4 separate regions of the Homo sapiens genome follow, and all the other regions are linked to region 1. Evidence: fine-mapped expression QTL. A gene starts in region 1. Each other region holds a variant in brackets. All regions are shown on one strand. Distances are between the middles of the regions. Region 1 holds the start of ZNF333 (zinc finger protein 333). Region 2 overlaps CYP4F22 (cytochrome P450 family 4 subfamily F member 22). Region 3 overlaps CYP4F22 (cytochrome P450 family 4 subfamily F member 22). Region 4 overlaps ADGRE3 (adhesion G protein-coupled receptor E3).

Region 1 (8,142 bases):
TTTGTATTTTTAGTAGAGACAGAGTTTCACCATGTTGGCCAGGCTGGTCTTGAACTCCCAGCCTCAAGTGATCTGCCCGCCTCGGCCTCCCAAAGTGCTGGGATTACAGGCATGAGCCACCACGCCCGGCCTCATCTGAGAATCCTTTTAATTGCAGAATTCTTCAGAGCAGTGCTGTCCAACAGACATCACTCTCTGATGATGGGAATGTTCCATGCCTGTGCTTTCCAGAAAGGGGCTACCAGCACATGTGGCTGTTGAGCACTTGGGCAATGTGACTGGGGCGACTGAGAAACTGAGCGCTTAAACTTTTTAATTTTTTTTTTTTTTTTTTTTTTTTTAGAGACAAGGTTTTACTCTGTAGCTTAGGCTGGAGTGCAGGGTCACAATCCTAGCTCAATGCAGCCTCAATCTCCTGGGCTCAAGCTATCCTCCCACCTCAACCTCCCAAGTAGCTGCGATTCCAGGCACACACAACCATGCCCGGCTAAATGTACTGAATCTTAATTAATTTAAGCTGAATTTATATTTCTATGGCCACATGTGTTTTCAATAGGTCTCACCAGGGATGACAAGGATGGCCCTGGAGGAGCTCCGCTCAGAGCCCCAGGGTCTGCTGTGGGACTCTTCTTCCATGCCACCTCTAGAGGTCAGGCACAGAAGGAAGTCCCTAGGTCCCCTAGGGCAGGGATGAGGATGCTCCTCACTCACCCTTCCCTTTCTTCCTCAGTTGGGGACGGAAGTGGCGAGAGAGAAGACAGGGCCCAGAGGACATAGTTATCCTACATATCCACCCCTTCAGCCACAGGAGCCCCCAGTTTCCTCACCATGACACTGGAGCCAGGGTTTGAGGTCTCAGTCGGTGTTCTCCCTGCAATAAAGGAGACACTGAGGTAAAAGAAGGGGTGAGGACGGAAGCAGAGCATTTTGGGGGATCTCCAGCAGAGTGGTCACAATCAAAACCCTTACAGGACATTTATCTCCATAAGCAACATGTTGGCCCCCAAGGCACCTTTCAAACAACAGCCTCTAGTGACTGCTACTGACTCTTCCCATGTCATCAAAGGAACATTTTAACTTCTAGCTTCCCTCAAAATACTTCTAAGATCTTCTACTTTTCCTCCACTGCCCATATGAAGGTGTGATTTGATATTTATTTCTTAAACGATTTTGGCCTCTCTCTCTCCAACTGTGATGTAAACCTTTTTTTTTGAGTCTCACTCTGTTGCTCAGGCTGGAGGCCAAGGTGGGTGGATCACTTGAGGTCAGGAATTTGAAACCAGCCTGGCCAATATGGTGAAACCCCATCTCTACTAAAAATACAAAAATTAGCTGGGCATGGTGGCAAACGCCTGTAATCCCAGCTGCTCGGGAGGGAGGCTGAGGCAGTAGAGTTGCTTGAACCCAGGAGGCGGAGGTTACAGTGAACTGAGATCGTGCCACGGCATTGCAGCCTGGGCAACAGACTAAGACTCCATGTCAAGAAAAAAAAAAAAAGAATAAGGTCCAGGTCAAGCACGGTGGCTCATGCCTATAATCCCAGCACTTTGGAAGGCCGAGGCAGGTGGATCACTTGGGGTCAGGAGTTCAAGACCAGCCTGGCCAACATGGTGAAACCCCATCTCTACTTAAAATACAAAAATTAGCTGGGCATGGTGGCACACACCTGTAATCCCAGCTACTCAGGAAGCTGAGGCCAGAAAATCGCTGGAACCCGGGAGGTGGAGGCTGCAGTGAGCCCAGATCCCACACTGCACTCCAGCCTGGGTGACAGAGCAAGACTCTGTCTGAAAGAAAAAAAATAAATAAAAAGAAGATCCAATGCTAACCATGATCTTCAGGGACCTGCCTCCCTCTCTCACCTGGCTCATCCATTCAGTACTTTATTTTCTCTACTTTAGCTTTCTCTACCTGTTCTCAGCTCCTGGAACACAGCAGGCTTCGTACTGCCTGAAAGACTGTACATCTGGAATGTTCTCTCAAGTTTCCTCCGCTACCCCACTCCACAGCTAGACCCCTTGTTTAGCTACGTACAACTCATCTTGAAGGTTCAAACATTTGTTCCTTTTCAGATGTGTTTCCTGACATCCTCCCCAAGTTCTCCTGTTCCACGTTCTCATATTGCCTTTGGCACTATTAATTTACCAATATTATTAGCTAGAATAAAGCCTCCACAGGGGCAAGCACTGTAACTATTTCAGTCCCACTGTTTCCCCATGTACAGGGTCCAATTCATTGAGGGCACCCCAGTGAAAATATGCCAAATAATCAACACTCCTCAAGAATGACTCAGTATAGCTAGCCTAAGAAGGAATATGCCCACGCACACACAAAACACAGTATGAGGCCAGGTATGGTTGCTCACGCCTATAATCCCAGCACTTTGGGAGGCCGAGGCGGGTGGATCACCTGAGGTCAGGAGTTCCAGACCAGCCTGGCCAACATGGTGAAACCCCGTCTCTACTAAAAATACAAAAATTAGCCGGGCATGGTGGCGGGCGCCTATAATCACAGCTGCCTGGGAAGCTGAGGCACGAGAATTGCTTGAACCCAGGAGGCAGAAGCTGCAGTGAGCCGAGATTGTGCCACTGCACTCCAGCCTGGGTGATGAAGTGAGACTCTGTCTCAAAAAAAAAAAAAAAAAAGACAATATGACACCATAAAAATCAAATATAAGAATAACTTAAAGTGCCTGTCTTTCATAAGACATAATCACACAAGTTTCAGGTACCTTTAAGAAACAATATTAATTCTTTTTAAAAAGGCAAGGCAAGCGCATATATTCTTTGTGGAAACAAACACCTCACTCGTAAAACTGAAATCTGATGCATGATTTTCCTCTGGAGTTAATTTTTTCCTGATTTCTCAGTAGACACGAGCTTTAACCCCATTATTAAAAAAGACATCCCACTTATGGCCAACTCAATTTGAATTTCCAGTATTAACAAAGTTTATATCGTCTTTTCCCTGAAGTTCCATTAGTTTTGAAGCTCTGTGATTCACATGCTTGGGGGAAGGACTGGAGCCAACTTGAAAAGATCTGAATAACAGTCTTAGGTTTTCTTGATAATAATATTTGTGAAATAACTGAGAAACGGCTTTTCTTAACCTAACAGTGAGAAACTTGATGCCCACAGCAGAAGTAAAAGTCGTCTCAAACATAGAAAATAAAGAAAAACAAAAACAAAAAAAATTAAGAACTCCTCCTTTTGTTGTTGTTTTTGTTTTTGAGATGGAGTCTTGCTCTGTCACCCAGGCTGGAGTGCAGTGGCACAATCTCAGCTCACTGCAACCTCCGCCTCTGGGGTTCAAGCGATTCTCCTGCCTCAGCCTCCCGAGTAGTTGGGATTACAGGCGCCCACCACTACGCTCGGCTAATTTGTGTATTTTTAGTAAAGACAGGGTTTCACCATGTTGGCCAGGCTGGTCTCAAACTCCTGACCTCAGGTGATCCACCCGCCTCGGCCTCCCAAAGTGCTGGGATTATAGGAGTGAGCCACCAAGCCTGGCCAAAAGCTTTCTTATGAGAAAGAAAAAAAAGAAGAAAGAAAAAGTTATGGAAAAGGAAGAGATGCAAAGCCAAGCTAACAGATATTAAGCTAAAAGACTTCAAATTGTCAGTCTCCAAAAGAAATCTCTCGTCATCTAATTCATTCCTTAATGGAGGATGCATTCAATTTTTTAAGTAAATTTGGCCAATCAATTAAACCAGTTTGCACATGTGGACCCAGACCTCACTTTCCAGTTGCAAAGCTAGATAATATTAAGTATCATATCAAATAAAACGTGAATTACTAATTCGCAGTTATCTTGCATACTGTAGGCAAGGTAGGGCCGTCTTTATGCACTTTCCCTAAAAATTGGGAAGGACAGGTGAGAGCTGGGGCCGGTGTCACCACATTTCTGAGCTGTGGGACCTGGACTGTTTGGGATTTCCCTTTTGACAGGATGACAGCCCTGTCTGCCCGGACGGGGGGTACCTGAGAGCGAGAGACCGGGCGGCGGGCGCCCAGATGCGAGGCCCTGACTGTGTGGGCCTCACGCCGGCCACCGGCTGATCGCAGGGAGGAAACCCCTCACACAGGCGGAGCTGTTCTAGGCCCTCCAGTCCCTCCCCGCGCCAGCCGAGCCCTCCCCGCCCTCCCCGCCCTCCCGAGGGGCCGGGCCACACCTGCAAGCCAGCCGGAGACACTCCCACCGTGCCGTGCCGCACCGCGCCGCGCCGCGCAGCACAGCTCAGCCGCCGTCGGCCGCCGCCGCGCGCACTTCCGCTTCCGGTCTCGGGGCCGCCGGGAACGGAAGTGGCTGTGGCTCAGGCTGTTGTGGCCAGGGTAGCCTTAGGCGGCGGCAGAGAAACTAACGTCTTCTTTAGCCTCCAAGGAGAAATTCTAGTATTCTTACCCGGGGGATGAGGTTAGGCTCTGGAGTGGGGTCCCACAGAGCATGGAGGGTGGTGCTGGGGGCGGAGCCTATGTCCGAGAGACAGGGATAGGGGTGGGGCTTAGGTCCCGGGGCAAAAGTGGGGCGGGGCCTGTGCGCGGGGGCGGGGTGGAGTGTGGCTTGCCCTCCGATGGCTGATGGGCGGGGCTTGCACCCCAATGGCGGAGTGGGCGGGGCCTTGGTTTGCAGGGTGGTAGTAGGGGCGGGTCGTGCGCCTCAGGGGCAAAAATGGGGCGGGGCTTGTGCTTGGGGTGGGAATGGGAGCTGAACTTGCATTCGGAAGGCGGGATGAGGGGACCTGGGCTTCAAGGGTTGAGAGGGGCACACCCGACCCCTCCCCGGGTCTCTTTAGGGATGCTCAATATTTAACTTACCCTTTTCTCCTTCCTTTTCCCCAACCCCTTCCACCTTTATCCATGGGCTTAATCCAATCCCCTACAAAAATATACCCATACTTAAGATTGTTTTTGTATATTTTTATACGGCTGACCCTTAGGCAACGGGAGTTGGGGCGCCACCCTGTGCAGTGGAAAATTCACTTCTTTTGACTCCCCCAAAACCTACCTACTAATAGACTACTGTTAACCAGAAGCTTTACCAATAACATAAAGTTAGTTAACACATATTTTGTATATTATATGCCATATTCTTAAAATAAACTAAGCTCAGAGAAAAGAAAGTGTTATTAAGAAAATCATGAAGAAGAGAAAATATATTTACTCTTCGTTACGTGGAAGTGATCGTAAAGATCATAAATAAACGTCTTCATCGTCAGCTTCACCCTGAGTAGGCTGAGGAAAGGGAGGGGTTTGTCTTGCTGTCCCAAGGAGGACAAAGGTAGAAAAAAATCTACCTATAAGGGGATAGCCACAGTTCAAACCCTTGGTGTTCACGGGTCAACTAACTGTCTTTATTCTAAAAATAGGACGATGTATTTTTGTTTCTTCTACAGCTTGCCCTTCTCACTAAAAATAAGATGTGTGAATCTAAGACATAGATCTGACTTTTTAAAAACTATTTATTATGTAGTATACATAGTACATACCTATGGGAAAAGTTCAAACGGGAGGCTCACTCTATTCCTAAATTTTCCTCCCCTGAAACAACCACTGTCACTAGTTCCCTGGTATTCTTTATATATCAAGCACATGTGCAGTCATGCACCACATAACAAGGTTTTGGTCAACCACGAAACACATACACAGTTGTGATCCCATAAGGTTATAATGGAGCTGAAAATTTCTTATCACCTAGTGATGTTGTAACTGTCACAATGTTGCAGTGCAACACATTACTCACATTTAAAAAGGTTTTAAAAATATGAAAAGACCGGGCGCGGTGGCTTACGCCTGCAATCCCAAGACTTTGGAGGCCGACGCTGGTGGATCACTTGAGGTCAGGAGTTCGAGACCAGCCTGGCCAACATGATGAAACCCCCAGTCTCTACTAGTAATACAAAAATTAGCTGGGCATGGTGGCATGCGCCTGTAATCCCAGCTATTCGGGAGGCTGAGGCAGGAGAATTGCTTGAACCCAGGAGGTGGAGGGTGCAGTGACCCAAGGTCTTGCCATTGCACTCCAGCCTGTGCAACAAGAGCAAAACTCCATCTCAAAAAAAAAAATGAAAAATAGCTTATAGAATAAGGATATAAAGAAAGAAAATACCTTTATGCAGTACAATTTATCTGTGTTTTAAGCTAAATGTTCTTACAAAGAAGTTGGGCCGGGCGGGGTGGCTCATGCATGTAATCACAGCACACTTTGGGAGGCCAAGGCAGGAGGATCGCTTGAGTCCAGGAGTTCCAGATGACCAGCCTGGGCCACATAGCAAGACACTGTCTCTAAAAATAAAAATAAAAGAAATGTATCATTTAAAAAACAAAATGTACAAAGGTTCAGTTATTTCAGATAAATAAGTTTTGGAGATCTAATGTACAGCATGGTGACTGTAGTTAACAGGAACATATTATGTACTTGAAATGTGCTAAGAGGGTAGGTCTTACGTGTTCTTACCACCAAAAAAAAAAAAGCAAATATGTGAGGCGATGGATGTGCTAATTGCTTCATTATTTCACTGTATGTATATCAAAACATCAAGTTGTACACCTTAAATATATACAATTTTTATTTGTCAACTATAACTCAACAAAGCCAGGAGTAAGAAAGGAGTCAGTGGCCAAGCATGGTGGCTCACGCCTGTAATCCCAGCACTTTGGGAGGCTGAGGCAGGTGGATCACCTGAGGTCAGGAGTTCAAGACCAGCCTGGCCAACATGGTGAAACCCCGTCTCTATTAAAAATACAAAAATTAGCCGGGCATGATGGCAGGCGCCTGTAATCCCAGCTACCCGGGAGGGTGATGCAGGAGAATCACTTGAACCTGGGAAGCAGATGTTGCAGTGAGCCGAGATCGCACCATTGCAATCCAGCCTGGGCAATAGAGCTAGACTCCGTTTCAAAAAAAAAGAAGTGAGAACATCCAGTATTTGGTCTGCTGTTCCTGTGTTAGTTTGCTAAGGATAATGGCCTCCAGTGCATCCATGTCCCTGCAAATAACATGAGCTGATTCTTTTTTACATCTGCATAGTGTTCTATGGTGTGCATGTACATTTTCTTTATATCGCCTGCTATTGATGGGCATTTAGGTTAGTTCCGCATCTTTGCTATTGTGAGTAATGCTGCAACGAACTTACATGCGCATGTGTCTTTATGATAGAATGATTTATATTTCTTTGGGTAGATACTCAGTAACGAGATTGCTGGGCCAAATAGTATTTCTGTTTTTAGGTCTTTGAGGAATCGCCACGCTGTTTTCCATTGTTAACCCCATTTTAAATGTGAGAAAGTAAACACTGAGTAAAATGAATCAACCTGACATGAAATCACCGAGCACAGAGACCACATATCTTAAACGTTTGTCGGATGGATGGATGGGTTCACAAATGCATGAGTGAATAAATATCATGATCAGGCTTCCTAACTCTAATTCTCATGCACTTGTCACTAAATTTAGCTTACTGACTTAATGAGTATCTTTGGGCCTGAATGTCCCAGAATAATAAAGATACAATAATAGATTTAAGGTGATGTAAAAAAGAACAAGTTAATATCTCTGTAGGATTTGCCTTAACTCCTCATACCCGGAAAATTTAGACCTTCATCCATACTTCAACCCAGCTTCTTAAAGCCCAGCATTTGAAGCTACTTTGGATTTCTTTTTCTTTAATCTTACCAGAAGATGGCACTATAATGTAAAGACTAAGCCCTCTGAGCTGGGCGCGGTGGCTCACACCTGTAATCCCAGTGCTTTGGGAGGCCAAGGCAGGAGGATCACTTGAGGCCAGAAGTGCAAGACCAGCCTGGGCAATATAGAAAGACTCTATCTCAATTTCAAAAAGAAATTAAGCACTCTGAAATAGGACTCAATCATCATTATTATCATCATCATCAATAAAGTAATATTGATAATGGGGATCTTATTTGTGTCTTACTGTAAATCAAGCATTATATTTTTAAATCTCATCTCAGGATAAAACCAGAAAGTGTTAGGAAACTTGAATTATTTCTTCTTTTGTGTTGATGACATAACCAAATAAGGGAGGAATTTGGTTAGGTCGCAATCCCTGGGAGGAGGGTAGGTCCTCATGATTTGCTGGGGTGCTCTTGGGAGAGAGGGAGTAAGGAAAGCAGGGTAGGAAGGAAA
Region 2 (8,142 bases), 850 kb before region 1:
CATTTATTTATTTTTTTAGATAGGGTCTTGCTCTGTCACCTAGGCTGCAGTACAGTGGCACAATCATAGCTCACTGCAGCCTTGAACTCGTGAGCTCAAGTGATCCTCCAGCCTTGGCCTCCCAAAGTGCTGGGTTACAGGTCTGAGCCACCACACCCAGTCTCGGGTATATTTTTGAACAGGCCCAAAGAGGGATAAAGACTTTCAACATAGGCATAGTCATTGTAGCATCACTAAAACTAAATGGTTACACTCCTCAGCATGGGAGAAAATATTTGCAAATTGTCTATCTGATAAGGGATTGGTACCTAAAATAAATAAAGAATTCTTAAAACTTATTTTAAAATGGGCAATGGATATGAATAGGCATTTCTCCAAAGAAGACAGAAATTTCCAATGAGAATGTGAAAAGATACTTAACAGCACTGGTCACCAGAGAAATGCAAATCAAAACCACAATGAGATACTACTTCACCCCACTAAGGTGACTAAAATCAAAACTTATAATAACAAGTGTTGGGCTGCACTCCAGCCTGAGCAACAGAGCAATATCCTATCTCTAAAAAGCAAACAAAACAACAACAACAAAAAAAAGCAAGTGTTAGTGAGTATGTGGAAAAACTGGAGCTCTCATACATCACTGGTTGGGAGAGCAAAATGGTACAACCACTTCATACCATGTTGAAACCCACTGAAATAAAGTTTAGCAGTTCCTCAAAATGTTTAAAATGGAATTACCGTATGACCCAGCAATTCTGCTCCTAGGTATATAGCCAAAAGAATTAAAAATGTATGTTCACACAAAACTTTGTGCATGAATGTTAATAGCAGCATTATTCATAAAGGTCGAAAAGTGGAAACAGTGTCCATCGATGGGTGACTGGATAAACAAAATGTGGTATTATGTGGTAAATGGAACATTATTCATCAATGAAAAGAAATACATAACTGATACATGCCACAATATGGATGAGCCTTTAAAACATTATGCTGGGTGAAACAAGCCAGACACAAAAGTCTGTATGATTCCATCCGTGTGAAATATCCATAACAGGCAAATCTATAGAGATAGAAAATAGATTAGTGATTGCCTAGACTTGAAGGAGAAAGGGAAGTGCACGGGTTGCTAAAGTGTATGAAGTTTCTTGGGGTGGGGGAGGATTGATGAAAATATTCTAAAATTGATTATAGTAATGGTTGCACAACTCTGAATATACTAAAAGCAGTTCAGGTGTATTCTTTAAATGAGTAAATGGTATAGTATGTGAATTGTGTCTCAACAAAGCCATTATTTTTTAAAAACTAACAGGTGAAGCAGGCTTGAAGGGAGCTGTCCTCAGTCCTGAAGTGGGCTTGTTTTCATGCACTTATTGCAGTCTGTCGTTTTCTTGTTTGTTTACTTGTTCATGGTTATTACCTGTCTTCCTACTAAAATGGAAGCTCTAGAAAAGCAACATCTTGTCTTTCTTGTTGAATATGGTGTTCCCAGCACCTAGTTCAGGGTTGGCACTTACTAGGCACTCAGTAAATATTTCTTGGATGAATTAATTATTTAATTTCTAAGACAATCTCTGCCTTATCCAACTGGAACGTGCCCCTATAATGCCTAGAGTAACGAAGTCATTAGCTTGTTACTGAGGACCTACTATGTGTTGCAAGTTTTGCATTAATTATCTCCCTTATTCCTTATGTCCCCACTTAGACTATAAACTTCACAGAACTGTGACTGTCTGTTGTTCACCACCCTGTTCTCAGCAGCAATATCATGGTGCCAGGCACGTAGTAGGTGCACAATGAATATTTGATGAATGAATGAATTAATGAAGCAAGGCATTGGTTATTTGATTCATTTACTCAACAAATATTCTCTGAGCATCAACTATGTGCCAGGGCAGTGCTGCATCATTTTATCCTTAAAGCATCTCTCAGAAAGTAAGAGATTGTCATCCTTTTTTTACAAACAAGGAAACTGAGCCTCAGAAAGTGGGGAGGACACTGTCCAAAGACCACATACTCTTCCTAGTGGAATGAAAAAATACTAACATTTACTAAGCACCTACTTTATACCAAGCCATTGATTCACATTATCTCATTTAATTCTCACACAATGACTATGGGGAAGGAATTATGATGCCCATTTTTTTGATTAAAAAAAAAAGTGAAGCTCAGAGAGATGGTCAGTTTCCCGGAAGCACATGGCCCATCCGTGGCAGAGCTCCCATAGGCCAGAGTTGTCTAATGCCTGGGAGTTCCCTTTCTCCTGCCACCATCTTGCTCCTAGAGCAGCTGGCTCCATCTTCCCAAGAAGGGTCACACTCACTCTTGGCAGTTGCTGTTGTAGCTGAAGACACATTTCTGAAGACTGTCCAGGGTCATGAGGCTGATATGCTCAAACATATCAAGGGAGACCGCTGAGCCCTCTGCCAGATGCCGCCATTTAGCCTGGAAGAGAGATACATGGTGACTGTGCATGGAAACCACAGAGAGGGAGTCAGCCTAACAAGGACCCGACTGCGTTTTCACTACAAGCTCATTTTATAGATAAAGTCAGTGAGGGCTCCTGACATCACATGGCTTGCCCATGCATGAGTTGGAGCCTGGACCAGCCTCACTCCCAAGACACCCTCTTCCCTCAAAGCCTTAGGACTCACATGCATAATGTCAGCGCTCTGGTTGAAGATCTTCATGTAAGGCTTCAGGATGTCAAAGTGGAAGGCGGGTGTCAGCAGGCGACGGTGCCGGCTCCACTTGTCACCTTTGCTGAGCAGCAGCCCATCCCCTGGGCCCAGAAGACTGAGGTTAGGGACCTCTCCTGTTACTCTGAAACCTTCCAAGGAACCCCATGCTCTTCCCTCTCTTCTCTAAAGCCCCAGCCCCAGCCTACCCACTGGGCACTCACCTAGCCAAGGTTTTAGGAAGCCATAGAAGAGGTCATCCTTGGGGGCGATGGCAGCTGTGGAGGGCAAAGGGAAAATGGTGACTCAAAACAGAGTTTTTTGGTTTTTTGTTTTTTTTTACGGAGTCTTGCTCTGTCATCCAGGCTGGAGTGCAGTGGTGCGATCTCCACTCACTGCAACCTCCGCCTCCCAGGTTCAAGCAGTTTTCCTGCCTCTGCCTCCTGAGTAGCTGGGATTACAGGTGTCCGCCACCATGCCCGGCTAATTTGTTTGTATTTTTAGCAGAGACAGAGTTTCACCATGTTGGCCAGGCTGGTCTCGAACTCCTAACCTCAAGTGATCCACCCACCTCAGCCTCCCAAAGTGCTGGGATTACAAGCACGAGCCATCGTGCCTGGCCTCAAAACAGAGTTCCAACCCTTGACCTTTGCTTATGACTTCCTTAGTCCTCCTCACTGGGCTCCAACCTCCCACTGTATTCACCCAGTCCGTCCTCCACACCTACCCGAGAAAAAATCCTTATAAAACACTGATCTGAACATGAGCCTCCCCTGCTCAGACACCTCCCATGGCTCCCCATTGCACTTGTAAAAAGTTCAGGCTCAGCCTGGCATTGAAACCCAATTCCATCTGGCCCCTGTATGCCTCTCCCACCACCTCATCCTTCAACATACACCAGATAACCCTATTCTCATCGCCTGCTGTGGATCACCTCTGAACCTTTGACCAGGTTGAGCTGTCTATCCAGAATGGACTTCTTCACCTGAGTCTTCCCCTAATCCACCCCCTTATTTTCTGCCAGCTCAGGCCATCTGAATCACACCTCCTGTGCTCCCAGCCTCCAGCCTCACCCTCTCCAGTGTGTCCCTCATGAATGGCCCCAGGAGAATCTCATCTGACTATCAGATCTGACCACGCCCCTTCCTGCTCACA[C/G]ACCCATCACCCTCACATACCAGCCCATTTTCAAAGCCCTGAATCATTTGCCTTTGTCCAAATCTCTCTCAAGACACCTCTGTCTTCCACCCCCTATTCGACGTCACAGAACTAACACCACATAACTTTTTGTTTTTTGTTTTTTTGAGATGGGGTCTCACTCTGTCACCCAGGCTGGGGTGTGTGGTGAGATCATAGCTCACTGCTGCCTCCAATTCCTGGATTCAAGCGATCCTCCCACCTCAGCCTCCCGAGTAGCTGGGACTACAGGCATACGCCACCATGCCTGGCTAATTTTTTAATTTTGTGTATGGACAGGGTATCGCCATATTGCCCAGGCTGGTCTTGAACTCCTGAGCTCAAGTGATCCTCCAAGTTCAGCCTCCCAAAGTGCTGGGACTACAGGCATAAGCCACCATGCCCGGCCACACCACAGAACTTTTCTCAGCTCCTTAAAAAGACCACGTGCTCTCTCTTCTCTGAGACTTTCCACCAGCTGTTCTCTCTGCCCCAAACACTCTTCCCTCATCCTGTATGAGAACTTGAATGCTTCTCCCCACCCCTGACCCAGCAGTCACTCTGGATTGTATCCACTTAGTTACAAGCCCCTTAACAGGAGGGTTCGTGTTGATTACTGATATGTTGTGCTAGATAAATTTTTATTAAATGAATAAATAAGTCAATCCAAGGATGGATGAATGAAAGAATAAATGGGTGGATGGATGAGTAGAGGGACAGATGAGTACATGGATGGATAAATAAGTGGATGGATGAATAGCAGATGGATAGATGGTGGGTGGGTGGATGGATGGATGGATGAATGGATGGATGGGTGGATGGTGGATGGATGGATGAGTGGATGGATGGATGAATGAGTGGATAGGTGGAAGGTGGATGGATGAATGAATGAATGAGTGGATGGATGAATGGATGGATCCTCCTTCTATATACTGAACAGATTTGGGGCTGAATGGGCAGAGGCCCAGGAAGGAAGTATCTGAAATTCGAGTGATATCACTTTTACCTGAATGCGACTCAGCCACCTACACCGACACAATCCCTAGGAATTGGCCAATTGCCTACACAATCATCCGCCCACTCATCCCCCCATTCATCACACCTCTTATGCTGCCTTTCTGTGCCCAACCCAAGCTGGGTGATGCTGGGGACCCACAGATGGCTCAGCTCTATGCCCTCCCTGGAGGAGCTCCTGAGTGGGGCAGGAAAGGGAAGCAGAGACACACCATGCAATTACCAAGAAGGTAGAAAGTGTGCTAGGTGCTAAGGAAGGCTCAGAAAAAGGGCTGTTGGAAGTCAGGGCAGGCTTCCTGGAGGAGGCAGCATTGAAGAGGAAAGCAGGAGTCTAGTCACTCCTCTCCTCTCTGCACTCTGGACTCCAAGATAGGCTCCACAGGGATCTTTCTGACACCAGGATCTGGTCAATAGCTGTCTTGTTCAAATACTTCCCGTGGCTCCCTATCACTCCCAGGATAAAGTACAAGTTCATTCACTTTGCTGTCCAGTTCCTGCTTAACTGTCAGTCTCATTTCCTATTCCCCCCAACATATCACCTTCACTCCAGCCACCCTAAATCACCTGAATTCCCCTGGAATTTTCACACATCTGCATCAAGGCACTGGCAGGACCTTCCATCTGGGACTCCTTCTCTGGCAAGCTCCTAGGCATCCTTCGGGGCCCAGCTTCACTGACACCTACTCCAGGAAGCCTTCTCCAAACCCCCTTCTCAGCTGAACCATTGTTCTCTCATCCTCAGGTTCCTTTTCCACTCCAACTCTGACCACAATGCCAGGAAAGTCTGTGTCCACGCTCCTCACCAGTTTTCCCCTCCAGCAAAAAGGAGATGGTAGGCCAGGTGCAATGATTCACACCTGCAGTCCTAGCACTTTGGGAGGCAGAGGCAGGAGGATCACTTGAGCCCAGAAGTTCAAGACCAGCCTGGGCAACACAGCAAGACTCTGTCTCTACAAAAATGTTTTTTAAAAAGAAAAAAAAAAAGAGGGAGAGATGGTAATGCCTACCATGGATGAGACGGTGTACGAAATACCCCCACATGGTGCCAGCATGGAGAAACTCATGCTCAGAAAGCTGCATATCACTATGTTTGAGAGCTTGGGTTCTGGGCCAGCCAGGTCTGAGTTCAAATCCCAGCCCTGCCACTAACTAGATATGTAAGCCTGGACATGTTACCACTGCCAAAGGAGAAAATAGAACAATCTTGCCTCATGGCATCCCTATAAGACTCAACAAGCTCTTGTGTTCCTGGCACATGGTAGATGCTCATTAAATACGTGCGTAGGTAAATGAATAATTGACCAACTGTTGGCTATTTTTATTACTATGGTTAAAATGATTATTTATTGGCATCAAGAACTTGTGAGATAAATAGTTGTGTTTCCTGTTAGTAGAAAATTAATGCACACCCTCTGTGGAAAACAGCAAGGTGGCTCCTTAAAAAGTTAAGTACAGAATTCCATATGACTTGGCAATTCTACTCCTAGGTATCTACCCAAGAGAGAAATGAAAACATATGTCCACCCCAAAACTTGAACACATATGTTCATAGTAGCATGATTCACAACATCCAAAAGGTGAATGGGTAAACAAAAAAAAATCCATACAGTGAAATGAATTCAGCCCTAATGACCAACCTGGACAACATAGCAAGACCCCATCTCTACAAAAATAAAAATAAAAATTAGCTGGGCATGGTGGTGCGTGCCTGCAGTTCCAGCTACTCGGGAGGCTGAGGCAGGAGGAGAATCACTCGAGCCCAGGATTTCAAGGCTGTAATGAGTTATGGCTACACCACTGCACTCCAGCCTCTGGGTGACAGGGTAAGACCCTGTCTCAAAAAAAAAAAAAAAAAAAAAAGAATGAAACTGATTCCTACTACAACGTGAATGAACTTCAAAAACATTATGCTGAGTAAAAGAAAACAGACACAAAAAGATCACATTTTATGTGGTTCTCTTTCTATGATGTACCCAGAATAGGCAAATACATAGAGACAGAAAGCAGATTCGAGGTTACCAGCGGATGGGAGGAGGAGGGAAATGGGAAGTGATTACTCAATGGGTACAGAGTTTTTTTATGAGGTGACTAAAAATTTTGAAACTGGAAAATGCTGGTGGTTGCCCAACATGGTGAATACACTAAATACCACTGATTGTTCACTTGTAAATGGTTAATTATATGTTACATGAATTTCACCTCCATTTTAAAAAGATGATATAAAAGCAAGCTACAATTATATGTCTATATATCATCATGTTCTCTATAAAGCATGTTTATCTACTTTCTCTCATTAAAATTTCCTAGTCCAAAGGCCCATAAGATGATGGGGAAACTGAAGCTCCAACAGGAGCTGGGCCCTCCTCCAGGCTCAAGGGCTGTGCAGCTCCAAGCTCAGAACAGCAAGCCACTCCCAGGTGTGGCCCCAGGAGGTCCTGATCCAGGGTGGTGTCTGTGACTGGAGCCTGATCTGTGTAATTCCAGGTGGGGGCACCCTGGGGCCAAGAGGCCTCACTCCAGGCTGACTCACAGCACCACCCTTTTTTCCATCCTGGAGTTCCCTATCTGGCTTCTCTGATGGGGTACACAGAATATCCCCTCCCTCCACTGGATGAGGGGAGGGCAAGAGGCTTAAGCATCTACTACATGACAGCCCCTGCTGGGGCACTACTCCTCGGTCTGTTTGGAGTCTCAGAACCAGGCAGGATGGTGCTCAGGAAACTGATGCTCTGAGGGGGAGGAGAAGGGAGGAGGAAGGAGAAAAAAGAGAGACCAGGCGCTGTAGCTCACGCCTGTAATCCCAGCACTTTGAGAGGCCAAGGCAGGAGAATCACTTAAGGTCAGGAGTTCAAGACCAGCCTGGCCAATATGGTGCAGCCCCGTCTCTACTGAAAAAAAAAAATACAAAAATTAGCCAGGTGTGGTGGTGCACACTTGTAGTCTCAGCTACTCGGGAGGCTGAGACAGGAGAATCACTTGAACTCGGGAGGCAGAGGTTGCAGTGAGCTGAGATCATGCCACTGCACTCCAGCCTGGGTGACAGAGTGAGACTCTGTCTAAAAAGAAGAGGAAGAAAAAGAAGAAGGTGGAGGAGGAGGAGGGGGATGGGGAGGAGAAGAAGGAGAAGGAGGAGAAGGAGAAGAAGAAAGAAGTAGAAGGAGGAGGAGAGAAAGAAGAAGAGAAGGGAGGAGGGGGAAAGAGGAGTAGAGAGAGAAGTAGAAGGAGGAGGAGAAGAGGGAGGAAGAAGAAAGGAAAGGAGGAAAAGAGAAAGAAAAACATA
Region 3 (8,142 bases), 860 kb before region 1:
CCACCTTGAGCCAGAGCCCGTTCTCCGTGCGCAGTATGAGCTCCGGCTTCCGCCGCACCTTGCGCGTTCGGTCCACGCTCAGGCGGAAACGTAGCAGTGTTAGTGCCACAACCACGCGCAACTCGGCCATGGCGAAGCTCTGTCCGATGCAATTCCTGGAGGAAGAGGGGACAGGGCTCAGGCCCAGCTTCTGTGTGAGCACTGGTCCCCGGGGGTCACATGCCTCCTTTGAAAATGAAGCAAGCATCCTGGGCTGGCTGAGGGTTAAAGTGAAACCCCACGCTGGGTGAGGGTTAAAGTGAGACCCCACGGATCGCTCAATTAATGTGACCTTGGGGTTGAGTGTCTGAATCCCAGTACAGCCTCTTACTAGCTGTGTGTCCTGGATACACAGCGCCCCCTCTGAGTCTCAGTTCCTTCATCTGTAAAAACGGGGACAAAGGCATCATAGAGCCAATGGGAGCGTGGGAGCCCAGAACTCAGGGCCTGACACACCGTTGGTGCTCAATACCCAGGATGCTATTGCAGAGTCTGATTTGGGGGCCTCCTGGCGCATTGGGGAGAGGGTGCTGGGTCTTCAGAAAGGACGCCTGGGTGCCATCTGATCTCTGCTCCTGAGAGGCACATTCCTGATCTTTCCCTGCCTCTGTTCCTACACAGCTGGCTTGGACTAGGGGAAATAGAGGGGTTACCTGGGTCCTGCAGAGAAGGGCACATAGGCCAGTGGAGAGCGCTGCTGTGGGTTGTCCGGGTCAAAGCGGTAGGGGTTGTACACCTAGGGAGGAACAGCCTGGAGATGAGTCTGGGGGCTGCCCCAGACATCCCAGCCTGGCCCCCTTCCCTGAGCCTCTGGGGGTCAGTAAAGATGGATGGGGAGCACCCCAGGGCCACCTCTTCCATTCCACCTTGCACTTCCTGCAATGCAGCCACACCTGCCTCCTTCTGTTGTTCACACGCACCAGTGAGATTCCACCTCAGGGCCTTTGCACTTGCTGTTTCCTCTGCCTAGAACAGGCTTCTCCCTGATCCTTCATCCCCTAAGTTCTCAGCTCAAACATCTCCTCGGCAAGGCCTTTCATAACCACTCGAGCTAAAGTGCCCCCTCCACCTGTTTTTCTTTTTTTTTGTTTGTTTGTCTGTCTTTGTTTGTTTGTTTGTTTGTTAGAGTCAGAGTCTCACTCAGGCTGGAGTGCAGAAGCGCGATCATAGCTCATTGCAGGCTGGGCGCGGTGGCTCACGCTTGTAATCCCAGCACTTTGGGAGGCCAAGGCAGATGGATCATCTGAGCTCAGGAGTTCAAGACCAGCCTGGCCAACATGGTGAAACCCCATCTCTACTAAAAATACAAAAAAATTAGCCAGGCATGGTGGCACACACCTGTAATCCCAACTACTCAGAAAGCTGAGGCAGGAGAATCTCTTGAACCCAGGAGGTAGAAGTTGCAGTGAGCCAAGATCGCACCACTGCACACGCTCCAGCTTGGGCAACAGAGCAAGACCCAGTCTCAAATAAATAAATAAATAAATAACCATAGCTCATTGCAGCCTCAAACTGCTGGGCCCAAGCGATCCTCCTGCCTCAGCCTCCCGAGTGGCTGGCACTGCAGATGTGCATCACCATGGCTGGCTAACTTTTTTTTTTTTTAGAAATGGGGTCTCACTGTGTTGCCCAGGCTGGGCTGAGCTGGAACTTCTGGCCTCAAACAATCTTCCCATCTTGGTCTCCCAAAGCACTGGGATTACAGACACAAGCCACCACATTGGGCCAACTTTTTCCTTTTTGGTAGAGATGGGGGGTCTCGCTGTGTTGCCCAGGCTGGTCTCAAACTCCTGGGCCCAAGCGATTCTCCCACCTTAGCCTCTCAAAGTGCTGGGATTACAAGTGTGAGCCACTGCACCTGTAAACCGGAACTGGCCCAGTTTTTCTTTCTTTTGTGCATGTATCAATACCCAAAATCTTATTTATTTGCTTATTGTCTTCCCCAAAACTTCACTGTGAGCCCTGTAAAGGCAAAGACAGTATCATCCTCTATTTTCAGAGCCCAGCACACACTCTGGCACACAGTAGGTGCTCAATAAATATTTTCTGCCCTAATGAATTAACAATCAGTGGGTGAATAAATGGCTAAATGCGGAGTGGGGAGGGGTGTGCGCACTCAGGCCCTGCAACCAGCCCTGCTCGCTGGCTCCCTGGGGCGCAGGGGAGGGGAGGACCTGAGGGCAGGGAGGAGTGGGGCAGGCACTCACCTTGGAGTCAGGCCACACTGTGGGGTTGTGGTGGGTTCCATAGATGCTGACCAAGCAGATGATTCCTGTGGGGAAAGATGGGATCAGTGGGGCCAAGGGGAGCCAGGGCCTCCTCCAGAAACATCCCCCAACTTGGGTCTCCCTAGAGCCATGATGTTCCCATGAGCCATCTGCCACCACCTTCTGTCCATCCTTCTCTAAAAAATTCTGCTGCCCCATCCACTCTTCCCACCTTTCCCTAAGAGGAACCTATCATCTTCTTTCTGGCTGCCAAGCTGGCCACATAGGGATCTTTCTTACTCGCAGATCTGACATTGCTCCTCTTCAGCTCAAACACCTACCTTGGCTCCCTGCTGCCCCCAGGATTGAGTTCAAGCGCCATCACCTGGCACTCAAGGCCTTTCAAAATCTGCATCCTGAGGCTCTACTCCATAAACATGCTCACTCTTTCACTTCCACACTCCAAGCCTCACCTCCCACATTCCCTCCTCCAGGCAGCCCTCCCTGCATTCCTCTCCATATTGGAGCTACTCCAGCCCCTGTCTCTCCCTTTAGCCCATTCCTGATTCCATACGCCTGGGAATGTCTGCACCCTGCTGTATCTCCCCCAGAAAGGGCAATACTCAAAACCTGAGCCAGGGTCCCCTGTATCAACCAAGGCAGGGCTTGGTCTCCAGGGAGTAACTGGCAACTGAATGAAACTGACCCTCCCCAACTGCACCCTCACAGGCCCATCCCTGCGACACTGCCTCCTTCCTTTCCACCTGGACTCACCCGGCTCTATCTCCCTGCACACACAACTGGGTTTTCTCCAACACCCCAGAAGCAACAGGCACACAGAGAGCTATCCCATCTGCAGGGATAGTGCACCTGGGGCAGGCATAGCCAGGCCCCTGTGGACAATAGAGCAGCTACATCATTGGAGGCAGTGCACCAGCAGCAGGCGGAACATGGTAGGCACCTTTGGGGATGATGCGCCCATCTGGGAGCTTGATGTCCTCCGTGCATTGGCGAGAGACAAGAGTGACAGGTGGGTACTGGCGCAGGCTCTCCTTAATGCACATAGTTGTAAAGGGCAGCTGAGTCAGATCGTCCCTGGGGAGAATGGAGATATAACTAGAGGCCGAGCCACCATGGCACCACCTCCCCAAAACACACACACACACACACACACACACACACACACACACACACACACAC[T/A]CTCTCCCTCTCTCTCTCTCTCTCTCTCTCTCTCAGGGGCAGCTGGGCAAGAAACCAGTCCAGGATTTTAGACTTGCCCCAATTTCTGCCATTTGCAGTTGTCTCATGCACAGGTGGGAAGTACTAATATTTAGTGGTTTTTTTGTTTTTTCTTTTCCTTTTTCTTTCTTTTTTTTTTTTAAGACCGAGTTTCGCTCTTGTTGCCCAGGCTAGAACATAGTGGCGCATCTCGGGTCACTGCAACCTCAGCCTTGCAGGTTCAAGCAATTTTCTTGCCTCAGCCTCCCAAGTAGCTGGGATTACAGGCATGCGCACCCACACCCGGCTAATTTTTGTATTTTTAGTAGAGACAGGGTTTCTCCATGTTGGCCAGGCTGGTCTCAAACGCCTGACCTCAGGCAATCCACCCACCTCGGCCTCCCAAAGTGCTGGGATTACAAACGTGAGCCACAGTGCCCGGCCAGTACTAATACTTAGGATGCAAAGTATCTGAGCACCAACCGCTCAGAACAGCACTAGCACTGGGCCCTCTGCTGGGCCCAGCATTAAGCCTTTAATTGATGAATTATGTGGAGGTCCAGGGGCACCTAGGCGAGGTGCCAGGACAGCCAAGGGGACTCACGGCAACAGCAATATGCCAGTTTATATGGTCCATTTCTGTACTTAAAAAACTGCTGCAGGACAGGTGTGGTGGCTCTCGCCTGTAATCCCAGCACTTGCAGAGGCTGAGATGGGCGATCGTCTGAGGTCAGGAGTTCAAGATCAGTCTGGCCAACATAGCAAAACCCCATCTTTACTAAAAAACACAAAAATTAGCTGGGTGTGGTGGCGTGCACCTGTAGTCTCAGCTACTTGGGAGGCCGAGGCAAGAGAATTGCTTGAACCCGGAAGGCGGAGGTTGCAGTGAGATGAGATTGCACCACTACACTCTAGCCTGGGTGACAGAGTGAGACTCTTGTCTTAAAAAAAAAAAAAAAAAAAAAACTGGTGCAGGCCAGGCATGGTGGCTCATACCTGTAATCCCAGCACTTTGGGAGGCCGAAGCAAGTGGATAACTTGAGCCCAGGAGTTCGTGACCAGCCTGGGCAACAAAGAGAGACCCCATCTCTACCAAAAGTTAAAAAATTAGCTGGGCATGATGGCACACACCTGTGGTCCCAGCTACTCAGGAGGCTGTAGTGAGCTATGATCATGCCACTGTACTCCAGCCTGGGCCACAGTGTGAGAGCCTATCTCAAAAAAAGAAAGAAAGAAAAAAAGAAAAAAGAAAGAAAAGAAAAGTGCATTATCTCCTTATAATATCATTTACTTAATATTTTTTCCCTTGGACTTTAGGGCCCAAAATTGGGCTAATGATAACTCTTGGTTCATGTTCTAGATTAGATTAGTTTCTTTAAATTAGCAGGTTCTCTTTCTTTTTTGATGGCGTCTTGCTGTTTCATCCAGGCAGGAGTGCAGTGGCACAATCTCAGCTCACTGCAACCTCTGCTTCCCAGGTTCAAGCAATTCTCACGCCTCAGCTTCTCAAGCAGCTGGGATTACAGGCACACACCAATACGCCCAGCTAATTTTTGTATTTTTAGTAGAGACAGGGTTTCACCATGTTGCCCAGGTTGGTCTTGAATTTCTGGCCTCAAGTGATCCACCCGCCTTAGCCTCCCAAAGTGCTGGGATTACAGGCATGAGCCACTGCACCTGGCCCAGGTTCTCTTTCAAAGAAACTTTATGGCTGGGCACAGTGGCTCACACCTATAATCCCAGCACTTTGGGAGGCCAAAGTAAGAGGACTGCTTGCACTCAGGGATTTGAGAGCAGCCTGGGCAACACAGCAAGTCCCCATCTCTTAAAAAAATGTTAAAAATTAGCCAGTTGTGGTGGCACACTCCTATAGTCCCACCTACTCAGGAGGCTGAGGCAGGAAGATTGCCTGAGCCCAGGAGTTTGAGGCTGCAGTGAGCTATGATTATGCCACTGCACTCCAGCCTGTGTCTTAAAAAAAAATAAACTTCATGTTGCTATAAAGGGCAAACAGCATCCCTGGCATAAAGGTATTCATCCATACAAACACCACTGTGAAAGCAGTAGTGTGTTATTAAATTGTGTCTACACACCAACTCCCACCCAACTCTCTCAACCTGAGACATCTTCTCCACTTGTTTAAAAGGAAGATTAGCAAAGTGTTCAGGACACAGTAGCACCCCACTGAGCATGTCCCCCTGAGGCCATAAGGCAAAAGGTTGAAATAGAACCGAAAGGAACCTCCTCACTGTGTGAGTTGATGCTATTTAATGTTGCGGCTGTGTTTTTCTTCTTTTCTTTTCTTTTCTTTTCTTTTTTTTTTTTTTTTTTTTTTTGAGACAGGGTCTCACTCTGTCACCCAGGCTGGAGTGCAGTGGCGTAATCTTGACTCACCACAGCCTCCACCTCCTGGGTTCAAGCAGTCCTCCCACCTCAGCCTCCCAAGTAGCTGGGACTATAGGCATGCGCCACCCCACCCAGCTAATTTTTGTATTTTTTTGTAGAGACAGGGTTTCGTCATGTTGCCCAGGCTGGTCTCAAACACCTCAGCTCAAGCAATCCACCCCCCTCGGCCTCCCAAAGTGCTGGAATTACAGGCATGAGCCACCACGCCCAGCCTAATGCTGTGTTTTCTTTTCATCACCCAGAATCAGCTCTACATAGCATGAATCTGGTAGAGACTGGGTATGTGTTCTGATTCTCCACTTCCTCCCTGAATTAGAATTATATACCTGTACCCTTTGTCATATGATTCTTCAGTGCCTTCTGCTCAGGTGAGTGGAGTATATGTCCTGCCCCATTCATGCTGGGCTTGGTCACGTGACTTGTTTTAGCCAATGCAATCTTCTAGTGCAAGCACAGCTTTTGTTTTTTTTTTTTATTTTATTTATTTACTTATTTTATCTTTTTTTGTGGGGGGGTGGGGACAGAGTTTCACTCTTGTAGCCCAGGCTGGAGTGCAGTGGTGCAATCTCAGCTCACTGCAAACTCCACCTCCCAGGTTCAAGTGATTCTCCTGTCTCAGCCTCCCGAGTAGGGGGGATTACAGGCACCCATGACCGTACCTGGCTAATTTTTGTATTTTTAGTAGAGATGGGGTTTCACCATGTTGGCCAGGTTGATCTCGAACTCCTGATCTCAGGTGATCCACCCACCTCGGCCTCCCAAAATGCTGGGATTACAGGCGTGAGCCACCCCACCCGGCCCAAGCAAAGCTTTTAAATTTCATGGCTTTTTGTGCTTCTGGAATCTGCCTTGAGAAGAATACGACCCAGGGTAGCCTCTGGTCCAAAGAGAACAGAAAGGGAGTATATGAAGCAGATCTGAACCCAGCTCTTAGTTTTGAAGCAACTCCACTCCACTCAGCCAAGTCCAACAGCAATTAGAGTAATGAGCAGACAAGAGCAAGAAATGTGTGCATACAAAAGCAAGAAACAAATGCTTGCTGTAAACCACTAAGTTTGGGAGCTGTTCATTATGCAGCATCATTGCAATAATTGCTGACTAGGACACTTTGAGAACTTCTGCATTATGAGGTGGGCATAGGCACTATAACCACCCCCATTTTGTAGCTGAAGAAATTGCAATTCAGGAAGCTAAAGTGGCTTGTCTGAGGTCACACAATCAGTAAGTGGGAGAGCAGAGGCTTACACCCAAGGCTCTGGCCTCAACCTGCCCCCTCCATTCCCCTGACCCCACACTCACCACTCCAGCTCCTCCAGCTCCCGGCCTTTCATGACTTCCTGAATCTCTTCTCGGCATTTCTCCTGGTATTCCGGATACTTTGCCAAATTGAACAGCATCCAAGAGATCCCACTGGATGTTGTGTCGTGACCTGCAGGGAGATGAGGGTATCTGAATGGAGGCTGCCTGAAGAAAGCAGAGATGCTGTCTACAGACAATGATGTCCCTTCCTGCCCTCCTCCAGCCTCACCCCACATCCTCACCCTCAAACATGAAGGTGTCTGCTTCGGCTCGGATATCCTCGTCTGACAGTTCCTTTCCATCTTCATCCTGGAATGGGCAGTAGAGGGTGCTCAGCCCACTTCATCCCACCCTCCGCATCCTAGGGGCTCCTCAAAACTCAGATATCTCCCCGCCCCCATCTTTTTTTTTTTTTTTTTTTCTGAGATGGAGTCTCGCTCTATCACCCAGGCTGGAGTGCGGTGGCACAATCTCGGCTAACTGCAGCCTCCGACTGTCAGGTTCAAGTGATTCTCGTGCCTCAGCCTCCTGAATAGCTGGGATTACAGGCACATGCCACCACTCCAAGCTAATTTTTGTATTTTTAGTAGAGATGCAATTTTGCCATATTGGCCAGGCCGGTCTCGAACTCGTGGCCTCAAGTGATCTACCTGCCTCATCCTCCCAAAGTGCTGGGATTACAGACATGAGCTACCACGCCTGGCTCCCCTCTCTCTCTTAAGCCAAGCTGTGGGGGGAACTAGTCCAGGAAGATGGAAGTATGCAACTTGTCTAATAAAGATGGAAAGTGCCCAGCATGGTGGCTCACACCTATAATCCCAACACTTTGGGCAGCTAAGGTGGGAGGATCACTTGAGCCTAGGCGTTCAAGACCAGCCTGGGCAACATGGTAAGACCCCATTTCTACAAAAAAAAAATCAGCCAGGTGTGGTGATGCATGCCTGTAGTCCCAGCTACTGGTGAAGCTGAGGCA
Region 4 (8,000 bases), 34 kb after region 1:
GCTGGGATTATAGGCATAAGCCACAGCACTCAGCCATAAATCTGTCTTTTACTAAGCAATGCGCACCTCTATTGACAGTGTAGAAGCAGACTGTGATTCTACCTGGGTTCTGATGTTAATCTCTTAAACTTGTCTTATTTTACAAAAAAGGAAAATGCCTTTGGTTGTTTTCCTAATGTTAAGAGGTCTGCACCGTCCTTTTATAAAGACTGAGCCCATTTGGGGTTCGTTATTACCAAGGCTGGCAGCTCTAAGCAACAGACACCCCCACCCAATGATAAAGTGTGCAGCTTTGGTTCAAAAGGGCAGTTTTCTACAATAAATACGGTTTCCTATAACAAACATATTCTAGACTCAGGGTTGTAAGTCAAAGTTCTTGAACTCTTAAGATAAAATGTTCAGTATTAAAACAAAGCTGTTTGTGCTTTTAAGCAAATAGACTGAGCTGAAAACCAAAATTTAGAATAAGTACAGATTTAACCTCAGCATGATGATAAAAGATATGTAAACATTTGCTAGACTTTCCTTGTCTTTTTTTTTTTTTTTTTTTTTTTTTTCAGAGGCAGAGTCTCGCTCTGTCTCCCAGGCTGGAGTGCAGTGGTGTCATTTCAGCTCACTGCAACCTTTGCCTCCTAGGTTCAAGAGATTCTCCTGCCTCAGCCTCCCGAGTAGCTGGGATTACAGGCACCCGCCAACATGCCCAGCTAATTTTTGTATTTTTAGTAGAGACAGGGTTTTGCCATGTTGGCCAGGCTGGTCTCGAATGCCTAGGCTCATATGATCCTCCTGCCTCAGCCTCCCAAGCAGCTGGGACTACAGGTGCACCCTTCCTCAAATTTCTAAAGCAGAGATGTCCTCACTAAGCACAGAAACCAACACAAAAGTCTTCATTAACAGCTGATGACCAGACACTGATGCTTCTGTTTCGGTTATCATTCCCAGCCAGGCTGACTTTAAACACAAGAGGCTTCTAATTTTCTGTTTTCTCGGACATTTCAGTTCTAATTTCCAGTCAAGATGGAATAAAAGAATTTGGAGGCCAGGCACGGTGGCTCGCGCCTGTAATCCTTGCATTTTAGGAGGCCAAGGCGGGTGGATTGCCTGAGGTCAGGAATTTGAGATCAGCCTGGCCAACATGGCGAAACCCCATCTCTACAAAAAATACAAAAAAAAAAAATTTAGCCAGGTCTGGTGGTACACACCTACAGTCCCAGCTACTTGGGGGACTGAGGTGGAGGATTGCTTGAGCCCAGGACATTGAGATTGCAGTGAGCCAAGATTGTGCCACTGCACTCCAGCCTAGGCAGCAGAATGAGACCCTATCTAAAAAAAAAAAGGGAAAAAAAAAGCCAGGTGCGATGGCTCATGCCTGTAATCCCAGCCCTTTGGGAGGCCGAGGCAGGCGGATCATGAGGTCAAGAGTTTGAGATCAGCCTGGCCAACGTGGTGAAACCCCATCTCTACTAAAAATACAAAAATTAGCCATGCCTGGAGGTGCGTGCCTGTAATCCCAGCTACTCAGGAGGCTGAGGCAGGAGAATCACTTGAACCCAGGAGGTGAAGGTTGCAGTGAGCCTAGGTCGCACCATTGCACTCCAGCCTGGGCAACAGAGTGAGACTCTGTCTCAAAATAAAAATAAAAAATAAAAAATTTTTTAAATAAAATTTAAAATTTTTTAAAAATCAACAAACAGCAGATAAAGACTATGAATTCAGGCTTTTACCTTCTAGGTGCAAAGTTGCTCACCCCATTACTTACCCCACCTGCCCACCCCTCTGCCTGGTCACTCTCAGTTCCAATAGTAACTCCATCATGATGTCTTTTGCAGACACCACCTCCTCAAAGACAACCGAGGGCAGGAAAGAGGTGAGTGGAGGCTGATCCCCAGACCCTTCCCAGGTAACAAACATCAGTAACAAATATTTACAAAGCCCAAAGTGAGCAAATGGGGATGGATTTAGGGCAAAATATATATTATATATACATATATAATGTATTATTTAGGACAAAGAATATGTTATATATAAATACATAATATATTATTACCATATAATATCATATTACTACACAATAGTACATATTCATATATTATATACAATTATATATTATGCATAATTGTGGTATGTATACATATATCTATAGATAGATAGATACAGATATACCATTAGGTATACCACTATATATGTATCATTATCCAGCTCACTATAGATATATCACTATATATACAGTTGAACAACACACATTTGAACTGCGGGGATCCACTTACACGAGGACATTTTTCAACCAAATGTGAATCAAAACTACAGTATTGCCGGGCTTGGCGTGGTGGCTCACGCCTGTAATCCCAGCACTTTGGGAGGCCGAGGTAGGCATGTTACTTGAGGTCAGGAGTTCGAGACCAGCCTGGCCAACATGGTGAAACTTCATCTCTACTAAAAAATACAAAAATTAGCCAGGTATGATGGCACATGCCTGCAATCCCAGCAACCCCAGAGGCTGAGGCAGGAGAATCACTTGAATCCAGGAGGCGGAGGTTGCGGTGAGTGGAGATGTTGCCACTGCACTCCAGCCTGGGTGACAGAGCAAGACTCCGTCTCAAAAAACAAAACAAAACAAACAAACAAACAAAAAAATATATATATATATATGTATATATAGGCAGGATGCAAAACTCACAAAGAGGAAGGACTGACTTTTCATGAGTGAGTTCCATGGGTCTTGAGTATGCATGGATTGGATTTGAGCATATATGGACGATCCTGGAACCAATGCCATGCGTATACCAAGAGGGCTCTGTATCTGTATCTACTTATATATATATATAGATATAGGTATAGATAGACACACACAGTGTGCATGTACGTACATACATATGACAGTGTGTGAGTGTGTGTGTATGAGCGTGTGTGTGTTGCCATCTAAAGACAGGAATCTATCCCAGACCAAGAAAGACAGGCCAAGAGAGAGTATATTAAGGCCTGCTGCACTGCTGCAAAAGACATCCAAGTATCCAATGGTATCCATTATTGTCTCCGGCCAACTGACGGCATTTATATAAATATGTGATTACATCATGTAATCAATCCCTAGACTGTGAGCTTTTTGAGGAAGGGAATAAGACCAACCCCAAATTAGGAGTTCAAGGAATGATCACTGAAGTAATGAACAAATAAAGAATCAAGTAATCAGGCCGGGCATGGCGGCTAATGCCTGTAATCCCAGCACTTTGGGAGGTGGGTGGATCACCCGAGGTCAGAAGTTCAAGACCAGCCTGGCCAACATGATGAAACCCCCATGTCTACAAAAAACACAAAAATTAGCCGGGCATGGGGGCGCATGCCTGTAATCCCAGCTACTCAGGAGGCTGAAGCAGGAGAATCACTTGAACCCAGGAGGCAGAGGTTGCAGTGAGCTGAGATCACGTCACTGCACTCCAGCCTGGGCAACAGAGTAAGACTCCATCTCAAAAATAAATAAATAAATACACAATGATATAGGAGTTAAGAAGAAATTACTTAGGCAGATGGTGAGGGTACGGAAGTCCTCAGTGAGGTTTTCCTTTTAATGAAGAGCAGCCCCAAATTTTCTTTTCTAACAAAGAGCAGCCTGTAAAATCAAGCTGCGGACATAGACAAGCAAGCTGGAAGCTTATGGGTCAATGCCAGCAGCTGTGCCAATAGGAAAAGGCTGCCTGGGACTAGACATGATCAAAATGGCAGCTCCATCTTCCCTTCTCTTTGCCAGTCACGTGTACAGTAAGGAGCAGACAAGATGGTACTGGCCAAGTGGGTAGGGCAACCAGCCTTCCCCGAGCAGTAAGTAAATGTCGCACCTGGCCCAACCAATCTGTGGGCCCTACATAATTCAGACACCGCCTCC[TCA/A]GCCTGACTATAAAATCTAGTGCCTGAATATAAAATCTAGTCGGTGGGCAGGATTTTGCTTTCTTTCGGGCATCCCTCTCTCTCGCAAGGGAGAGAGCTGTTCTACTTTCTTTTTTTTTTTTCTTTTCTTTTTTTTTTTTTTTTGAGATGGAGTCTCACTCTGTCACCCAGGCTGGAGTGCAGTGATGTGATCTCGGCTCACTACAACATCTGCCTCCTCTGCCTTCCAGGTTCAAGCGATTCTCCTGCCTCAGCATCCCAACTAGCTGGGATTACAGGCACGCGCCACCATGCCCGGCTAATTTTGTATTTTCAGTAGAGATGGGGTTTCACCATGTTGGTCAGACTGGTCTTGAACTCCTGACCTCAGATGATCCACCCCCCTCGGCCTTCCAAAGTTCTGGGATTACAGGCATGAGCCACCGCACCCTGCCCTCTTTTCTTTTTCTTTTGCCTATTAAACCTCCACTCCTAAACTCACTCCTCGTGTGTGTCCATGTCCTTCATCTTGGCGCAAGATGACAAACTCTGGGTATTTACCCCAGACAGTGACGCTGCTTCAATAGTGGCAACCACTCCCTTGTTGCGACAGTGACAACCGAAAATGTCTCCAGCCATCGCCACATGTGCCCTGTGGAGGGAGTAGCAGAATCACCCCCCCGTTGAGAACCACTGGTCTATTTCTAACAAACTTATCACTACCTTGTTGGCAAAAAACGTTAATAATAACTAACCCAATCAGGCACGGTGGCTCACTCCTATAATCCCATCACTTTGGAAGGCCAAGGCAGGAGAATCGTTTGAGCCCAGGAGTTCCAGACCAGCCTGGGCAACATAGCAAGACCCTGTCTATACAAAAAAAAAAATTAAAAAAATTAAGCAAGCATGGCGGTGTGCACCTGTAATCCCAGCTACTCAGGAGACTGAAGCATGAGAATCACTTGAACCCAGGAGCTGGAGGTTGCAGTGAGCCAAGATCCCACCACTGCACTCTAGCCTGGGCGACAGAGCAATACTCTGTCTCAAAAATAATAATAGTGACTCACCCTTACATAGCTTTTACCAGATACAGACACTGTCCTAAAAGAAGAGCATCTGTTAACTCATTTAATCCTCCAGAAAAACCCTTTGAGTTCCTTTTCCTGTCGTGGGGCACAGAGTGATTGAGTGACTTGCCCAAGGTCACAAAGCTGGGACATGATGAAGTGCCAGGATTTGAACGTGGTTCCTCCAGCTCCAGAGCCTGCTTTCTCATGCTTTCTACTGTTCTTTTGGATATGGGACTTACCAGATTACATTTTTAAAAAATGAAAATTCTTTATGTCTTCAAAGCTGCAAAAGATTGTGGACAAATTTGAGTCACTTCTCACCAATCAGACTTTATGGAGAACAGAAGGGAGACAAGAAATCTCATCCACAGCTACCACTATTCTCCGGGATGTGGAATCGAAAGTTCTAGAAACTGCCTTGAAAGATCCAGAACAAAAAGTCCTGAAAATCCAAAACGATAGTGTAGGTAAGACAATAATGAGGACTGATACACCCTGGGGACTGGTTAGCAGCTGGGATCTGGGTTAGGCAATTAGAAAAAAAAAATTGAATACACCACATGAGTCCCTTTATGTAAATTACAAAAATTTATATAAATTCTAGAAAACGCAAACTTATCTAGAGTGACAGGGAGGGGCAGGAGGGAGGGGTGGCAGAGGCATGAGAAAATCTGGGGAAACTATTAGGGGTGATGGAAATCTTCCTGCCTTGATTGTGGTGTTGATTTCAGAGGTGTGTGCACCCAACAAAACTCACCAGATTGTACACTTTAATATGTGCAGTTGGTTAGACATCAATTATACCTCAATAAAGTTGTTTATTCAGAAGATTGCCAATAGTTTCCAATCCCAGGTCTGGAATTTTCACTTAAATGTAGTTTGAGGACCAGGCATGATGGCTCACGACTGTATTCCCAGCACTTTGGGAGGCTGAGGCGGGAGGGTTAATTCAGCCCAGGAGCTCAAGACTGGCCTGGGCAACATAGCAAGACCCCCATCTCTTTAAAAAAAATTTAAAATTTGCCAGGTGCAGTGGCTTGTACCTGTGGTCTCAGCTACTTGGGAGGCTGAGGGAGAGGATGGCTTGAGTCCAGGAGTTTGAGGGTGCAGTGAACTATGATCATGCCATTGCCACTCCAACCTGGATGACAGAACAAGAACCTGTCTCATTAAAAAAAAAAAAAAAACAGGTTTTGGGCTGGGCATGGTGGCTTACACCTATAATCCCAGCACTTTGGGAGGCCAAGGTGGGTGGATCACTTGAGGCCAGTAGTTTGAGATCAGCCTGGGCAACATGGTGAAACTTAATCTTTACTAAAAATACAGAAATTAGCGGGGCGTGGTAGCTCATGACTGTAATCCCAGCTACTCCAGAGGCTGAGGTGGGAGAATCACTTGAACTGGGGAGGCAGAGGTTGCAGTGAGCCGAGATCACATCACTGCACTCCAGCCTGGGTGACAGAGCAAGACTCCATCTTAAATTAAAAAAAAAAAAAAAAAAAACACACACACAGCAGGCTTTGAAAAAGTCAGTGCCTATTCTTCTTGGAAAACTGGAATCTGGATACTTTGGTTCAAAATTAAACCATTTTCCAGATTGCAAGTAAATCTCATCTCTCCTGATTTTGCCACGTCCTAACTGTTTGATCTGAGACCAGTGCCCTCACCTCATTGGGCTTCATTCTCCTGTCAATAAAATGAGGATAATATTAGCTGGACATGGTGGTGTGCAAATGAGGTCCCAGCTACTTAGGAGGCTGAGGTGGGAGGATCGCTTGAGCCCAGGAGTTCGAGGCTGCAGTGAGCTGAGATTGCACCACTGCACTCCAGCCTGGACAACAGAGTGAGAGCCTGTCTCAAAAAAAAATTTTAATAGAGATAATGAAAGTGCATGTAATGCACCTAGGACTAGGATCCCTCAGAAGCTAAACGACTCAAACTTTTAAGAAAGAAGAAAAACTACGGTAGTAATTGCTATAATTATGATTATTCTATCTTTCCACTCTTTAATATTATGAAATATTGTCAAAATAGTGTCATTCTTTTTTACAGGAAACACATAGTTTAATGTAGAAAATATTAAATAATATAAAAACAAGTCAAATTGAGGTTTGATAAAAATGACAAAGAGTAACAAGCGATAATATAATGGATGATGAAATTAACATTGTGGGCAGGATGAGGTGGCTCATCCTGTAATCCTAGCACTTTTGGAGGCTAAGGCAGGCGGATCACTTGAGGTCAGGAGTTCGAGATCAGCCTGGCCAACATGGTGAAACCCTGTTTCTACTAAAAAAAATTAGCCAGGCGTGGTGGTGCATGCCTGTAATCCCAGCTACTTGTGAGGCTGAGGAAGGAGAATCGCTTGAACCCGGGGGACAGAGGTTGCAGTTAGCTGAGAGCAAGCCACTGCACTCCAGCCTGGGCAAAAGAGCAAGACTCCATCTCAAAAATAATAATAATAACAATAAATTCACTTACACTGAGCTCAAGAATTTCTATTCATTAAAACGTACTAAATGAATGAAACAGTAGGCCAAAAACATTAATACATAATTAGAGTAAATACTTGTAAACTTTTCAAAAACTGAGAGTCAATATTAGACAAACCAGTAGTAGTTTCTAGAATGTCATTAATGTCATTCTTTTTTTTTTTTTCTTTTTTTTTTTTTGAGATGGAGTCTCATTCTATTGCCCAGGCTGGAATGCAGTGGCATGATCTAGGTCACTGCAACCTCTGCCTCCTGGGTTCAAGCAATTCTCCTGCCTCAGCCTTCCTAGTAGCTGGGATTAAAGGTGCCTGCCACCATGACCAGCTAATTTTTGTGTATTAGTAGAATGGGATTTCACCATGTTGGCCAGGCTGGTCTTGAACTCCTGACCTCAAGCAATCAACTGGCCTCAGCCTGCAAAAGTGCTGGGAATTCAGGCATGAGCCACTGCACCCAGCCATAAAATAGTGTCATTCTTGATGTGCTGTTTTGTTGCTTGCTTCTTTTTTTTTTTAACCTTTTAATATGCACAAAAGGAAATAGGAGAATAAAATCCCTGATGCACCCATCACCCAAT

The links. PIP is the estimated chance that this variant, and not a neighbour inherited with it, causes the effect.
Region 2: its variant is fine-mapped to the expression of ZNF333 in breast (GTEx, PIP 0.93).
Region 3: its variant is fine-mapped to the expression of ZNF333 in T cells (GENCORD, PIP 0.95).
Region 4: its variant is fine-mapped to the expression of ZNF333 in transverse colon (GTEx, PIP above 0.99).

Annotation. Positions count from the first base shown.
Region 1 is chr19:14,686,180-14,694,321 of GRCh38, reverse strand. ZNF333 (zinc finger protein 333) reads right to left here and starts at 4,274. Exons shown (of 12, transcript NM_032433.4): 1 at 4,172-4,274; 2 at 828-871. The coding sequence starts at 830. RefSeq lists silencers at 3,931-4,300, 4,631-4,680.
Region 2 is chr19:15,532,172-15,540,313 of GRCh38, reverse strand. It overlaps CYP4F22 (cytochrome P450 family 4 subfamily F member 22), which reads right to left. Exons shown (of 14, transcript NM_173483.4): 5 at 2,900-2,953; 6 at 2,652-2,779; 7 at 2,321-2,442. Among named protein-coding and RNA genes, the nearest start is that of CYP4F22, 28 kb to the right of the region's middle. RefSeq lists a silencer at 1,209-1,409. The variant C/G (reference allele first, on the strand shown) is at 3,831.
Region 3 is chr19:15,543,307-15,551,448 of GRCh38, reverse strand. CYP4F22 (cytochrome P450 family 4 subfamily F member 22) reads right to left here. Exons shown (of 14, transcript NM_173483.4): 9 at 7,412-7,478; 10 at 7,170-7,299; 11 at 3,208-3,341; 12 at 2,247-2,311; 13 at 693-775; 14 at 1-155. Among named protein-coding and RNA genes, the nearest start is that of CYP4F22, 39 kb to the right of the region's middle. The variant T/A (reference allele first, on the strand shown) is at 3,447.
Region 4 is chr19:14,652,380-14,660,379 of GRCh38, reverse strand. It overlaps ADGRE3 (adhesion G protein-coupled receptor E3), which reads left to right. Exons shown (of 16, transcript NM_032571.5): 5 at 1,830-1,867; 6 at 5,215-5,398. Among named protein-coding and RNA genes, the nearest start is that of ADGRE3, 18 kb to the left of the region's middle. The variant TCA/A (reference allele first, on the strand shown) is at 3,881.